Linked DNA regions of Homo sapiens: region 1 is linked to region 2. The links come from fine-mapping of genetic effects on gene expression. Tissue or cell type: spinal cord. Region 2 holds a variant in brackets; the other region holds the start of a gene. All regions are shown on one strand. Distances are between the middles of the regions.

Evidence for each region. PIP is the estimated chance that this variant, and not a neighbour inherited with it, causes the effect.
Region 1: it holds the start of THSD7A, and the variant in region 2 is fine-mapped to the expression of THSD7A in spinal cord (GTEx, PIP 0.96).

What each region holds. Positions count from the first base shown.
Region 1 is chr7:11,828,455-11,836,643 of GRCh38, reverse strand. THSD7A (thrombospondin type 1 domain containing 7A) reads left to right here and starts at 4,446. Exons shown (of 28, transcript NM_015204.3): 1 at 4,446-4,887. The coding sequence starts at 4,698. RefSeq lists enhancers at 3,769-4,308, 4,309-4,849 and a silencer at 6,407-6,701.
Region 2 is chr7:12,062,725-12,070,913 of GRCh38, reverse strand. The region is part of intron 1 of LOC124901589 (a long non-coding RNA gene); the gene reads left to right. Among named protein-coding and RNA genes, the nearest start is that of TMEM106B, 140 kb to the left of the region's middle. RefSeq lists an enhancer at 3,757-4,956. The variant G/A (reference allele first, on the strand shown) is at 4,774.

The DNA of each region.
Region 1 (8,189 bases), 230 kb after region 2:
ACCCTAACAAGAGAGTCAACCTGTCCTTTGAAATTTTAAAGCCAAGCATTGACTTCTCCTCTCTAGCTATTAAAATTTTAGATGGCATATTCCTCTAATAGAAGGCTTTTTTCATTTATGTTGAAAATTGATTGTTTAATGTAGGTACTTTCATCTGTTTATGTTGAAAATTGTTTAATGTGGCTACTTTCATCAGTGATCTTAGCTACATCTTCTGAGTAGCTTGCTACAGCTGCTTCACCTTGCAATTTTGTTGTGAACATGGCTTCTTTCCTTAAACCTTATGAAACAGTCTCTGCCAGCTTCACACTTTTCTGCAGCTTCCTCATGTCATTTGGTCTTTACAGGTTTAAATAGAATTGGGGCCTTTCTCTGGATTAGGCTTTGGTTTAAAGGAATGTTGTGGCTGATTTGATCTTCTATCTAGATCACTAAAGCTTTCTCCATATCAGCAATAAGGCTGTTTTGCTTCCTTTCATATGTGTATTTGCTAAAGTAGTACTTTTAATTTTCTTCAAGAACTTTCCTTTGCATTCACAACTTGGCTAACTGGTGCAAGAGGCCTAGCTTTTGGCCTATCTTGGCTTTTGATATGCCTTCCCTAATAAGCTTAATAATTTTAGGCTTTTGATTGAAAATGAGAGACTTGTAATTCTTCTTTTCACTTGAACGCTTAAAAGCCATTGTAGGGTTATTAATTAGCCTAATTTCAATATTCATATGTCTCAGGGAAAAGGGAGGCCCAACGAGAGAGAGATAGGGAAACAGCCTGTTGGTGGAGAAGTCAGAATACACAACAACATTCATTAATTTAGTTTGCTATTTTATATGGGCACAGTATGTGGTGCCCCAAAATAATTACAACAGTAACATCAAAGATCACAGATCACAGATCACCATAACAGATAGAATAATAGTGACAACATTTGAAAAATTATGAAAATTACCAAAATGTGATAGAGACATGAAGTGAGCACTTCATGTGGGAAAAATTATGTTGATAGACTTGCTCAATGCCAAGTTGTCACAAGCCTTAAATTTGTTAAACAAACAAACAAACAAAAATATGTGTAAAGCACAGTAAAATGAGGTGTACCTATAAACTTGGTGGGTGGGTGTCAAGGGAAGGGGAGGATAGAAAGAAGCCCAAAATAAATTTTGTCTCATCCAAATCTTGGTCAAGTGTGACACCTAGAGGTTGCACAAATAGAATTCCTTTGGGTATTTTTTATTTTTTAGGATGCAAAATGCATTTATGTGGAGAATTATTTTTAAGTTTTTATTTCAAAATGGACATCTTTAGATATTTCCATATGTAATACTATCAATAAATAACTATATTTCTTCACTTTTTTATAATTATAAAACTGTTGATGTTAAAAGTTGTTTCCCTTTCCATCAAGGAACTGAATATTTCATAATTGTTTTAAAATATTGATACTAATGACTAAAAGTCATTGTCATGAGTCTCATGAGTTGTAATATATATTTATATGTTTATGTTCTAATAAAAGAGAAAACAGATGTGTATAGGTATGTTCACATCCTTACCTCTGGAGTTTAGAAATGATAGCAAAATTAATAGAGGCAGAATAAAGACACCTATCACATGAGAGGTGATAAGTTTAGAATTTTTTCATTTCTAAATATTAAAAAAATATGCTTTGCATTTGTCATTCATTGGTTTGGAGAACTTTTATCGCACTGGCTCATTAATATTTGAACAGTTCTCCATGAAAAATGACGAACGATTTACTTCATGGCAGGCTGTACAGATGGTCAATTTAATCTGCATCCTTGAGACTTCTCATGACTAAATTTTGACATCATGTCATTAAACATTTGTGTATTATTATTTATGTCATATTCTAGGAAACAAATATTGCTATGTCTTGCTATCTCTTGCCATCTATCAGTTTTATTGATAGGATTTATCTACCTAGACACTATACCTTTCACAAAGGAACACATATCAGGATATATACATCACTTTTGTCTCCTCAGAGACCCATACATTTTTGTCCTCAAGTGCAATAATGACATTGTTATGAACAAATGTGTGGCAGGTGTGGAGACAAATGTTTATATGACTTGGATTCTCTAACCTTGTTCAGAGATATCTTTGCTGATGATTGTGTGTGTTTGTGTATGTGCATGTGTGTGTGTGACTCCTAGGCCTTGTGTACGTTGAAATTGAAAGAAGGAAACCAAATGTTGGCTATTTTGAAACAGTACTGCAGAACATATCACCATAATTGTGTATTGTAAATGGCAGCAAATTGGAACCTAGAAATTGACCCCGTATAATGCTTGAATTTGTAGCTATGATGTTTACACTCTTGACAAGTTGAGTTATTATTATACCACCATGGGTAAATATAAAGGTCAGAATCTTAAAATTTCTTTTGACAATAAGCTATTAAGTATAGTGTCGGATGGCTTTTTGAAGGGCTAGGTAAATGACCTTGCACATTAACTTAATTCCTCAGACTCTCTGTCCTCTGTTATATAATGAATTCCCACTTGGTGAATTGATTGGCGCTTCCCACGAATGCGTAGAATGGCTGCTGTTAGCAGAGTATGTCCAGTTTGAAATACTTCCTGTGCCAGAGTTAGAGGATTTCAAGGTTTAGGGCACTAACAGTAGCTGAGAAATACAAGCAGAAAGGATGGGAAAATGATTCCTTGTGGAGTGGACATGGAAATTTTCCTGAAACGACAGAACCCAGGAAGCAATAGCAGGTCCCATTTCCTTCTGTGGTGTAACTGTCAAAAGAAGTGATCCTTCAGGGAACCATACATTAGTTAAGATCAGGCTTCCTTTTTATTCCTTATCAACCTATAATCTTTTGATTGTTGCCTGTTTTTCACGAGTGAAGAAATAGTAAGCCACACTAGCTTATCTCTCCTAATCACAGACTCACAGCGCTCGGGCTCTCTGAGCTTTTAATTCCTTCTTAGAGGCCTAACAGAGCGGAAAGTAAACAAAGACCAAATTTGCAACCTTCAACGTAGCTAATTTCCTCTGATGTCAGAATACTTAAACAGGCAGGACCTGGGAATTATTTGATCAAACCCGCTTTTAATCTAATGCATGCAGAGGGGCTGTGTCTGGAAGGCTTTGCAAAATGACAAGGGTCCCAAGGGAGCCTTATGGAAGGTTTCCTCTTTCAGAAAGAGTAGCTTCCTCATCTTAAACTCTAGGGTAGCTATGTTGGAGTAAATTCATAAAAAGTAGTTTTCCTGCTTTTAAAATTTTATTTTATTTGGCTGAAAATTGCTGATGGGATAGTAGTTTTCTTTGGCTTTCCGTTTGCTGAATTTTTAATGGTTAAATGCCTACTATTTTAGCTTTACTGTGAAATGAATTAATAATAAAATATATTATTATTAGCTAAAGGGAGAAGGAGAAAGGGGAAAGCATTATCCGACTTCACACACATTCTTCTATTACTACTGGTAGAAGAAAGTGAAAACACAAAGGACAAAAGATGCAAACACATGTGGTTCCTTATTTAGATTGCGACAGGCATTTTGCTACAGTAAGAGTTAAGAAAAATCGGTGTCAGGGAAATTTTAAATGAAGAATTTACTAATTCCAAGATATCCAGACAGCATTACTGACTCAGTTTGACTCACAACTATCTGAATACTTAGAAGTAGCATATTTTTGAGGGAAAGAAGTAGATGAAGGGACAGAACTCTATACCTGAAATATAATTTTAATTTTAAGGGTTTTTTTTTTGTACAATTGTATTTATGTAATTAGGTAGCATTGCAAATACTCATTAACACTAATTCAGTTTTAAAGGCTATTAAAAGACAATTTAATTTGTCACAGAGCATCAATATTGCTCATATTTTTATTGATAATAGATTAAGTTAAAAACAACATTTAAAGAAGGGTTTAAGTGCATTTTGACAAGTCAACATTTCTGCTCTCGTGTTTTCACACCTGATCTCAAATACTGCTCCCCACACAAAGTAATTCAGAAGCCATGGCTTAAAAATAGATAATAAACACTGATGCTTTGTGTAAATACGTACTAAGAATAGCATGCCACTAGATCTAGCATTTGACTCCTTGGATGACAGTGAATATCAATGCCTGTTATTTGTCATTCTGAAATCTGCCGGGTGATGATTCTTTTTATTGGTGCATCCTTCCAAACATATTTCATCGCACCATGTGCACCGGAGTTCTTTAGGCGGGTATGTCGGAGGTGGGTGTCGCCTGGCTGGCCCCTCTCCCCTTTGCTCGCCCCCTTTCTCGCCCTCGCGCTCTCGCCTCCCTCTGCCTCCAGCCCCCTCTGCTCCTTTGGGCTCACGCCCCCCTCCTCCCCCTCCAGCTGGCGGGGGCTGCGCTGCCTCCCAGACCTAGCAGACCTGCTCAGTCAGCTGGGGCCCCCTGAGGACAGTTGCCTCCGGAGCCGCCGGGACCTGCCATTCTGCGAGGAATGGCAGCGGCAGCAGCATCCCCGCCAGAGGCGGCGGCGGCGGCGGCAGCGGCCACGGCCACCACCGCGGACGCTATTGTTCCCTGGTGTTAGACGCGCTCTCCCTCCTTCTCATCTGAAGCGAACAATAGCAGGAAAGAGCTTTGCTTTCTGTACTCTTTGAAAAGACGTTCCAAGAGCGGAGAAAAATTCCCTGCCGAGCGTGCTACGGCTCTGGACCCTGGAGTGGCTGCAGGCGGCATGGGGCTGCAAGCCAGGCGCTGGGCGTCCGGGAGCCGGGGCGCTGCGGGGCCGCGCCGGGGCGTCCTGCAGCTGCTGCCGCTGCCGCTGCCGCTGCCGCTGCTCCTGCTGCTGCTGCTACGCCCGGGCGCCGGCAGGGCTGCGGCGCAGGGCGAGGCGGAGGCGCCCACCCTCTATCTGTGGAAGACTGGTAAGTGGGACGGAGTTACCCTTTCCCCATCTTCACATCTGGGGCCACATTAAGGAGCTGGTGGGCTTCTGTAGGGACCCCGGTGCTTTTGGATGGCTTGGTTATGCTGGTATCCTAAGGTAAAAAGTATGATTTCTTAGGAAGCAAATAGGTCATGTCCGATGCAATTAGGAAAGAAAAGCATAACAACTAAGAGGCAACAGTGAGTAGCTGGAATATTTCTCTCGCAGCTCTGTAATGAGGGCAACGCGCACTTCCATGATGAAGTGCATTATTTTTAACCCCTGGATTTTCATTCTACTAGGAGTTTCTCAAACAGATTTCTAGCAAAGAACAAGCAAAGAGTTTAGTCTCAGTCTTTATTCTTTAGGCAAAGCAATATGCTCACTGTCATGACATTTGTGGATATAGAGTTGAATTTGTTAACTTTAGCTTTGTGATATGTGGGACACCTCAGAAACAAGCCAAGTGAGGGCGGTTCCAACAATTAAAGGCAAATGGGGCTCCAGTGAGCCTTCAGGGAAAGACTGAAAACTCAATTATTAACTAGCGAGTCGGAGGATTTTTAAAGTGTACAACTTTTAGGATGTCTGGGTTCAAACTTTCTCTTCCTTCCTTGAGAATTGTTTTGCTTTGTTTTTCAACCACCCAACAAAAGCAGCTACTAACTGCCCATCATTACCCATTGGCAAAATGCTTGGAGTTTCTGGCGGGGGCCGTGACAGGCAGGAAAACAATACGGAGTGAGGAATTACCAACCCCTTTTCTGCGGGTTCGCTTTCTCTCTGCATTAAAAAAACATTGAGAATTCCTTAGGGGACCTGAAACTTCACATGTTCATAGGAATAAAATGGGAAAAGATTATTCCTGTTGCTTAGAGCTAGGGGGTAATTTAAGAATAACTTGGTCATGCCAAACATTAAGAGAATGTTGTAGTTGAAAGGGAAAGTATGTATTCGTCATGGGGTTGCAAACAGGTTTCAGGGAGTGAGTGTCTTTTCCTGCTTCAGCCCATCTCTGCACCACTACTGAAGAGACAGCTCAGTCTACTCTACAATTGCATCACTATCGATATCTGGAATTTTTAAAGAAGTTGCAGCTATCCAGAAATTTAGTGAGGAGATTAAACAGAAATTTATTTAAAGTCAAAGTACACAATTTGTCTTAGAAGATTACATGAAACATATACACATTTTAAAAAGCAAGATTATTCTTGCTAACACCTTAAGTTTGAAGATCAGTTGAGTAATGAATTCAAATGAAATAAAATTAATTTACTTCAATTTGAAACGAAGATTTGAAGATCTCTAATTTAGCGTAAGCTAGGGTTTTACTTGTTAAAAGCACATTCATAATGACAAACATTAATCAAATTATAATTTACCATTAAATGGTATCATATGGATGCTTGGGGAGAGCTTCTTAGGTAAGTCAGTGTAGGATGAAATAGTAGTTGCCTAGTTGAAATTTATACTAGCAAAGTAACAAGAGCCAAGCAATAATTCAGATGGAAAAGAGCCCAGCCAACATTCACTGTACAGCATCTGAGGTGTCAATATATGTCATCATAAATGTCATGGTAGGAACACAAGCCAATAAACAGTTTAAAATAGTGGGAAGCTCTCAGAAACAATGATATGGAGACCTTGATTCCAGTGCCAGTCCTAGCTCTTGCTAGCTGTAGGAATTTTGGCAGTTCACTTAAATTTTGACCCTTAGTTTTCTCAACTGCATGTAAATGTGATGACACCTTCTTCTGCCTATCTGCAGTGTGTGAAAATCACATGAGTTATGAGAAAGTGATTGGTAAACTTCAAAGCTGTATGCAAATGTAAGCTAGTGTGATGAGGATGTTAAAGATATTTCTTGACTGGTGATCCTTGGTTTGGTAAAAAAAAAAAATAGTTCATTCAATTGGAAAGCAAAATAATGACTTCTTTATTTTTTTTTTTTTACCAAAGGGAAAGGAGACTTTAATATATCTGTAAAGGAGTTGAACGTAGTTCTCAAAAGAACTAGAGAATATTTAAAGAAAAAAGATATACCATAAATGAAAATTTAGAAGTTACAGAATCACTATGTGTGTATCACTTGATGAAAATAAAGAGGCAAGAAGGGAATTGGAAGAGAAAAGAGGTGACATACTCCAAAATATCTGTTCCAATGGGGTAAGCTTGGTCTTGGTACAGAGGATTATAGAGAATCATATTAATGGTGAGATTATTGAATTAAAATGATGTAGTGAAAGTTGTTACACTGGATGAAGATCTGGGACAGGAACTCAAACTGTGTATGTTACTAACATGCTGTAGAACTTTGGTAAAGTCATTAATGACTTTGGTTCTTGGCTTCCTATTTTGTAATACTCATTAAATAGATAAAATGATATCTAAGGGCCTTTTTAACCCCTAAAGGGCTTCATATATATGAATGCATATGTCAGATACATATATTATAAATACACACATAAATACATATATACAACAAATAAGGGTATATAAAGTTGACCCTTGAACAATGCACAGATTAGGGGTCCTGACCTACATGCACAGTGGAAAATTTATGTATAACTTTTGACTTCCCCAAAACTTAACTACTAATAGCCAACTATTGATCAGAAGCCTTACAGATAACATGAACAGTCAATTAATACATATTTTATATATGTATTATATACTATATTGTTACAATAAAGTAAGCTAGAGACAAGGAAATGACATTTGGAAAATCACGAGGAAGAGACAATATATTTACTATTCATTAAATGGAACTGGATCATCATAAAGGTCTTTATCTTCATCGTCTTCACATTGAATAGGCTGAGGAGGAAGAGGAAGATAGATAAGGGGTTGGTTTTGTTGTTTGAGCAGTGGCAGAGGTGGAAGAAAATGCATGTAAGTTGAACTGCCCAAATCAAATCATGTTGTTCAAGAGCCAACTGTACACATGTGTGTATACATATAATATATACATGAATAATACTTATTACTTATACATTATATGTAATGTTAAATATCTATCTATCTATCTATCTATGTGCTTTATTAAGTCAACTCACAACAAAGAGTTTTTGAGGAGCTAAAATATGTAACCACTGTGGTAAAAGCTGAATGGGATACTGCCATCCCTGCCATTGAGAAGCTCACAATTAACTTTTTTAAAAAAATTCTTATTCAACTGATTACAGGCTTTAGGAGATACTCACAATTAAACAACACTATAAGTACACAATTACAACATGGCATACCATACACATGAACAGAACATTATAAGAACAAAGAAGTTATTTGGCTGATAAAGGA
Region 2 (8,189 bases):
TACCAACAGCCTCTGTGTCCTTCAGTAAGCACTTCTAAAGTTACTCCATTATCCACGTTGACAAAAATGTGGAATGGCTTTTTAGGGAAGGTAAGGCTAAGACAAGGGTGGTTATGAGCCTTTCTTTCAGCTCTTTGATCTGATCACCTTTCTCAGAAGTCTACAGGAGATGGTCAGGCTTCTTCTGGGCAAGTTTTTGATATAAAAGTTTATTGTTTAGTGCATATGAGTCAATTCATAAGTGACAGTATCCAACTAACCCTAAAGATTTCCTGAGTTTTTATTTAGTTTGAGGCAAGGGTAGGGATACGATTCCCTCAACTTATTTAGGCCCTATTTTTCACTTGTCTGCACTGTGGCCTAAATATTTAACTTCAGGCTCTACCTACTGAAGCTTTCCGTTTGAGACTTGTAACCCTTCGAACTGCAGATGGTTAAGAATATGTGTAGAGAAGCTAGCTACTTTCTCCATATCTTCACCAGATATAAGAATATCATCAACATATTGGAGTAGGCATATTTGTTTTGGGATGATGACTTTTTCTAATACTTGTTCTAAAATTTGACCGAAAAGGTTAAGGGAGTCTGTGAACCCTTGGAATAAGACTGTCCATCGATATTGTTGTTTTCACCCTGGATGGAGATCTTTCCACTCAAAAGCAAATATATCTTCACAATCTTTAGCCAGGGGACATGTCCAAAAATCATCCTTCAAATCTGTAACAGTAAACCATTGATGATTATATGGAATCTTGCTGAGAATGGTGTAAGGATTGGGAACAATGGGGTGGGTAGTTTGGACTATTTGGTTAATGGCTCTAAGGTCTTTTACCAGCCAGTATGACCCATCTGATTTCTTGACAGGCAGTATTGGGGTGTTATAAGAGGACATATAGGGCTCAAGAAGCCCATCTTTAGTAAGACCTTCACTTATAGGTTTTAACCCTATCCTGCCCTCTAGGGGAATGGGGTATTATTTTCTCCTTACTACTTCCCCGGGGGTTTTTAGCTTGATGTGGATTGGAGGGACTCAGAGTTTTCTTCAGTTCTTTTCTTTGGACCAGACATTAGAATTAATGTATTTTGTCTCTGTATTGGTGAGTAGGTTTAATGAGGTGAAGAATTCTCTTGGTCTGACTTGTAGGCCTCTGCCTAACTTCAACATTAAATCCCTCCCTAATAAATTAGTCTCTGCTTCAGGGATTAACAAAAACTGAATATGAGCTGATTGATCTTGGTATTTGACTTTTGTGTATTTTAAAATTTTTGTTTTAAATCCTTCACCTTTCACTCCAGAGAGCAAAAGTCCTTCCAAAGAGTAGGCAATATTAGATGGGGGGAAACCAACAGAGGAACAAGTCATCCCTGAATCGAACAAAAAGTGATAAATTCATGTTTAGGTCCCACTTCTAAATTTATTAAGGGCTCCTGGTGGGACTCAACATAAAAGAGACAGAGCCCCTGACTCCCTTATTCTTCCTCAAAAGTAATGAACGGAAGGACTTTTTTCTCTTTTTTGAATTCAGGACATTTCCTCTTGAAGTGGCCTGTACTTTCATATTTGTAGCACCTATCTTGTCCTTTGTACCTCTCAGTTCTGGGATTTTTTTACTTTGTTTTGCCATACTCTTCAGAGGGCCTTGGTCCTCCAGATGGAGGCTTAGGTCTTTTAAAGAAGGGTTTGGACCCTTTATAGTTTCTGTGTCTCTGGAAGCTCTGTTTAGAAGGACATGGATTTGGAGTCTTCTGTTGGAAGGTGGATAATGTAAGTTTTGTCTTTTGTTTCTGATTTTTTTCGTCTCTCCTCACACATAACTTTTGAGTTTCCATGCGAAGTTCACTCGGGGGACGGTCTGGTCTTTCCAATTTTCTATTTTTTTGTACTTTTTTTGAAATGTCTGGCCAACTTTTTGTGAAAAATTGGAGTTTTAACATTTCTCATCCAAAGGGATCTTCTAAATTGAGGCCTGTATATTGTCTCATTTGTTCCTTCAGTCTGTCTAGGAATTTCATAGGCCCTTTATCCTTTTTCTGTTGCATATTAAATGTTTTAGAAAGATTTTGGGTTTGGGGTACTGATTCCCGAGTTCATTTGATTATCACCTCCCTTAGGCCCTGTGTATTTTCCTGGTGAGTTGTGTTGTTATTGTCCCAGCGGGGGTCTTGGGCAGGGAATTTCTGGTCCATGGTAGGAACGTTTTGACTGGGTGAATGCTCACGTTCTCAAACTACTATAGCAGCCCTATGAATCATACTCCTTTCTTCTCCTGAAAAGAGGATGTCCAAAATGGACATTAACTCAACCCAAGTGTATAACTGAGGTCCTAAAAATTGATCAATTTGATCTGCCACTCCGTAAGGGTCATCTAGTAATGGCTTAAGCTCCTTTTTTAAACTCTGGAATTCTGAACTGGTTAAGGGAGTATCCATGAAGTCAATGGTTCCTCCTCCTTGTGGCACCTATCTTAAGGGAAGGAGATCAGGGGCTGACTCTTTAGTTGTAGAGGGAAAAGGGAAGTTTCGGATATCCTTTTTATATTGTTCTATTTCACATTGGAGTCCCTTTAGGGAGGGGTCCTTAGGCTGTTAGGGGACAGACTCTTGGGATGATAATTTCCAAGAGTCAGGATTGTAAGGAGGGGGAATAACGTGAGTAGGTGAAGAATCTGGAGCAGGATCTTGGGCAGCAGCAGCTGTCTGAGGAGAGGGCTTGGGGTCACTGAGCAGGGGAAGATGGTCTAGGGGATCCCATATGCTGGAGTCTTTGCGCATGGGAACTAACTTATGTAATTTTTCCTTTTGTGATGTTACATTGGGTTCTTCCCTAGTTGTCTTTAAGGGGAAAAGGACAGGTCTCTGCCTCCAACAAAGAGCATAGTCTAGTTCCTCTTGAGAAACGAGGCTTTTATCATTTACATATTGAATGAAAAGCTGACACATTACATCTTCATTCGACCCAAACTTTGGTCAGAAGATTTGAGGGTTTGAAGATGGGTCTCTGAGTCCAAATAAAACAGCAATATTTTATCATTTGTTGCTTTTTCTTATGTTTAGTCCTCTCATTATTTTTCCAGTATTTTAACATGAGACCTAGGGGACTATGAGGGGGAATCATCTTTGTTGGTATTTTTATCCTTTTTACTCCCTGTCTTGCTTAGGGTATTTCCCATGTTGGGTCCTAGTTAGGCTTAATCCCTCATACTAGAGATTTCTTGCCTATCTTTTAGCCCCACCTGCTGGAGGATCCTTGCACCCTTCTTTTGCTTCATCCACTCTGGCCGCTTCCCTTTTGGGTGTCTAGGCCCCTCTTGGTATTGGCATGCCAGTTTGAACCCCATGGCAGGATCTGTCCTAAGCCGTATGAGGTGACCATGGAACCGCAGATAGGACCCACTCACTCCACACAGCGGTAGTGCGTAGTACCATTCACACAAGCAGCACTGCAAGCAGTAGTGTTTGTGATCATTTAAACACACTTTTAACCTCCAGAATATCTTGACCAGCAAGGAAATACTTCGTCACCCCTGCGACATTGCTTAACTTGGTCTGTGTACAGAGTTACCTGATTGCTGCGGTATGTGAGAATCCTTTCCCCAAGCTATCATCCTGTTTCCTTCTGGGTTGTTGAGAGCCCGAGTTTATTTGTCGCACTGGGTGGTTCCCCATCTCTCACCCTGAGGCCACCACAATGAGGCAATGGGACGCGTCTCCCCACGAGAAGTGAATGGAGACCCATTCCCTGGAGGAGAATGGGAATCCCGGGCAGGCGCCCAAAATTGTTGGAAGTAAATGCTCGGTGCCACAAAGTGAAAATAGCATTCAGACAAAAGTTTTCTCAACAAAACAATTTACTTCTATAGAAGGGTGAGTCTCATGGATAGAGCAATGGAGAGAGCACACCAGACAAGGGAGGGGAAGAGAGTCTTATCCTTAATGCAGTTAGTCCCTACTGCTGTGTCTTTCCTCTATTGACTAGGGTTAGACCGCACAGTCTAAGGTAATTCGGGTTGGCTATTTTAAAGAGAGCAGTGGTACAAGCTGAAATGGCAGGGTGAGTAGTTTTGGTGGGAGGGATGGTTACAAAACAGGTGACTAAGTATGACTAAGGACAGAGCAGGTGACTAAGGACAGAACAGGTGACTATAAGGATGACTAAAGACAGAGCAGATGACTAAGGACAGAGCAGGTGACTAAGGACAGAGAGGGTGATAGAGGTTAGGAGGGGGTTGTTTACTGAAACTAGGGACAAAGAGACGTAAAGAACAAGGAAGTTAAACTTTAAGATGAGGAACAAAGAACAGGGAAGCTGAACATAGTGACATATTGGTTCTTTAAAGAGAAATCTACTGTATCCTACAAGGCCTTAGTGCAGACCAAGTTGCATTACTTCTGTGGTATGGCAAACAGTCCTAAAATAAGCAGATATAAAACAAACAAAATCATACAGCATGTTTTCTATTAGGAATACAAAGGGAAAGCAAACGTAACATGTCTAGTCCTTAGTAAAACCTGGGTGACAAAAGAGAAGAGTGAAAAAGGGCAGCACATCATTGTGGTATATGTTTCTTATATATGTTTCTTAACGTCCTTTCGTTCTTTACGTCTCTTGTCCCTAGTTTCAATAAACAGCCCCCTCCTAATCTCTATCACCTGCTCTGTCCTTAGTCACCTCCTCTGTCTTTACTCATCCTTATAGTCACCTGTTCCATGCTTAGTCACCTGTTCTGTCCTTAGTCATCCTTAGTCACCTGTTTTGTAACCATCCTTCCCACC[G/A]AAACTACTCACCTCACCATTCCAGGTCATACCCCTGCTCTCTTTAAAGCAGCCAATTGGAATTACCTTAGACTGTGTGGTCTAACCCTAGTCAATAGGGGAAAGACACAGCAGTAGGGACTAGCTGCATTAAGGATAAGACGCTCTTCCCATCCCTTGTCTGGTGTGCTCTCTCCATTGCTCTATCCATGAGACTCACCCTTCTATAGAAGTAAATTGTCTTGTTGAGAAAACTTTTGTCTGAATGCTATTTTTACTTTGTGGCACTGAACATTTACTTCCAACAATTTTGGGGGCCTGCCTGGGATTCCCATTCTCCTCCAGGGAACAGGTCTCCATTCACTTCAAGTGGGGAAGAGCTTCACATACACCTTTATTTTTTATTTTCATTAATGTCACTAATTCACATTATAAAATGATGGTAAAACATTTACATAAGTGCTGGACTGCAGTTCAATGTGTTTTTAAGTGCAGAAACAAAGTTACCGTCTAAACTAAATTTTGTTCCATTTGACGTAAAAAGAGAAATATCTACTTAAAGCAATCTTTCGTTTTATAGGTGAATGAAATGCTAATCACAAATAATTCTCATATAATCAGTAAAGAAATCACTTATAAAGTCCTATAAGCTGACATTTTGTCCAGCTCAAGCTCCTGTTTGTACTTAAAATATTAAAATTATAAGTCTTGAAACTAATTCTAACTGGAGGATCCTGCTTGTTTGCAGTCTCTGCAAAACAGTTTCAATATAGTATATTTCAACTTCCTTTCAAGACGGAGACTATATTTCTGTTGTTGAAGCAATTAGGTGCATATTTTACCTACAACAATCAATAAGTAGACAGTCTGTTTCTTATACTCTTCTTCCACCACAGCTAGGTGTTAGACAAACACAAGTCATTCAGGCATTTTTAAAAGACCCTTCTTTCTGTTGCTATGTCCTCTAATTTCTGATTTCTGCCTGGGGGAGCTTACAGCAAGTATAACTCTCTTTTGTGGTGGCTAGGGAAGCTAAAAAAAAAAAGTTTTGCAAAACATAAAATAAAACACCCTTTTTATAAAAGCAAGGTGAAAAGTTCAAACATCCAGCTTCATTGGCAAATTGTGATTTGGCTCCATGAAAGTAAGTTTACTCCCTGATTCAGTGAGAAGATACATACTGATCCTTAGTAACTGCTTTGCCTGTGGCATGTGTGATAATCACATTATGTAGACCATTAATCTGCTTCCGGGTCTATTTGATGTCAATGACTCAGTTATATTTATGGATGGGGCAGATCTCAGTTTTACCTTTTAAAGTTACTTAAAGAGAATAAGCATAACAATATGTATTAGTTTTCTATTGTTGCCATAACAAACTAGCACAATGTTAGTGGCTTAAAACAACACTAAATTATGTTACTCTTCTGGCAGTCCTACATAGTCTCACTAGTCTCAAATCAAGGTATCAGCAGGGTTGCATTCCTTTCTGGAGGCTTTTAGGAGGATTGGTTTCATTGACTTTCCAATTTCTAGAGGCTACCCACATTTCCTGACTATGACCCCCTTTCTGCATCTTTAAAACGAGCAAAATTCATCCTCTGACAATCTTTTGTTATATATCTCTCTGATTGCAGCTGGGAAAAAGTTTCCATTTTTAAGAACTCGTATATTTAGACTGGGCCCATGTGAGTAATCCAGGATAATCTCCCCATTTAAAGATCCTTTACCTATGGCCAGCTGTGGTGGCTCTGCCTGTAATCCCCGCACTTTGGGAGGTCGAGGCGGGAGGCTTGCTTGAGGCCAGGAGTTTGACACCAGCCTGGGCAACATAGTGAGACCTCATCTCTACAACAAATAAAAAAAATTATCCAGTATCTGGGCATAGTGGCATATACCTCCAGTCCAAGCTACTTGAGCACTGAGATGGGAGAATCACTTGAGCCCAGGAGGTCGAGGCTACAGTGAGCGAAGATCATACCACTGCAGTCTAGCCTGGGTGACAGAGTGAGATCTTATATCAAAAAAAAAAAAAAAATTTCTTCACCTGAATAACATCAACCAAGTCCCTTTGGCCATGAGAGGTAACATATTAGGATATGAACAACTTTTCTTGAGGGGAGGAAGGGGTGGCATAATTCTGTCTACTATAGAATAGTTTAGGACAGCAATATCCAGAGCAAATTAAATGTGCAAATTTATTTTTGGTAGAATTTTTTTCTCCAATTAAATGAGTTTCTTTCAGCTCTTTCCCTGAAAGGTATTTTGATTTTCATTATATTTCATTCTTTTGATTATTTTCACTTAATAGATGTGAAAATTGAAGTTCATAAAATTATCAAAAGTCATGCTTCAAGATGTAGGAGGAGCCAAAGGCTGCATCAGGTGTTGGGTTCGAAGAGTCTTTCCTCCAGTGACCCATTGTTCTCCAAATTATTCACAAGAGAACAGACAAAAAAGTGATGTCCTAGAAAATCATAGGCCAGTCTCTCAACCAGAAAACTTCTGGGAATGCTATTTTTAAAGTCCTTAACAGATTTTTCTTACTGAAAGTCATAACAAATGTTTCCTCTAGAAAAAAATGTTTCTATTGAAGTATATTTGACAATTGAAAATTGTATATATTTAAGAAGTACAATTTGATGATTTGATATACATATTCATTGTGACATAAGTGCAACAGCCAAGATAATTAACATAGCCATTTCTTGAGTTATCATTTTTGTTTCTTTTTGTTGTGAGAACACTTAAGAGCTAACCTCTTAGCAAATTTCAATTATACAGTAAGTTGTTTATTATAGTCACATTGGTATACATTAAATCTCCATAACTTATTCTTGTTACACTGAAACTTTATACTCCTTAACAGGATCTTGCTGTTTCCCCATCTATCCAGTTCCTAGCAAACACTCTTCTTTCTGCTTCTATGAGTTTGATTCTTTTAGATCCCACATAGGAGATCATGAAGCATTTGTTTTTCTGTGACTGGATTATTTATACATGGTTTATCCACGTTGTTACAAATAACTGGTTTTTATATTTTTTTGCAATGTGGAATAATATTCAGAAAAAAATATTCATAAAAGCTGTGCAACATTCCATTATGTATTTATACTACATTTTCTTTATTCAGTCACCTGTTGATGGACACAGGTTGTTTGCACATATTGGCTATGGTGAATAGAGCTGCAATGAATATGGGGGTGCAGATCTCTTGAAAATCTTGATTTAGTTTTGTTTTTATATAGTCCTAGAAGTGAGACTTCTGGGTCATAGGGTAGTTCTATTTTTAATTTTTTTAGAAACCCACATACTGTTTTCCATCATGTTTGTACATTCCCAGCAACATTACCCAAGGGTTCCCTTTCTTCCAGATCTCTCTGATTATAGCCACTCTAACAGATGTGAGGTGATATCTCATTGACATTTTGATTGGT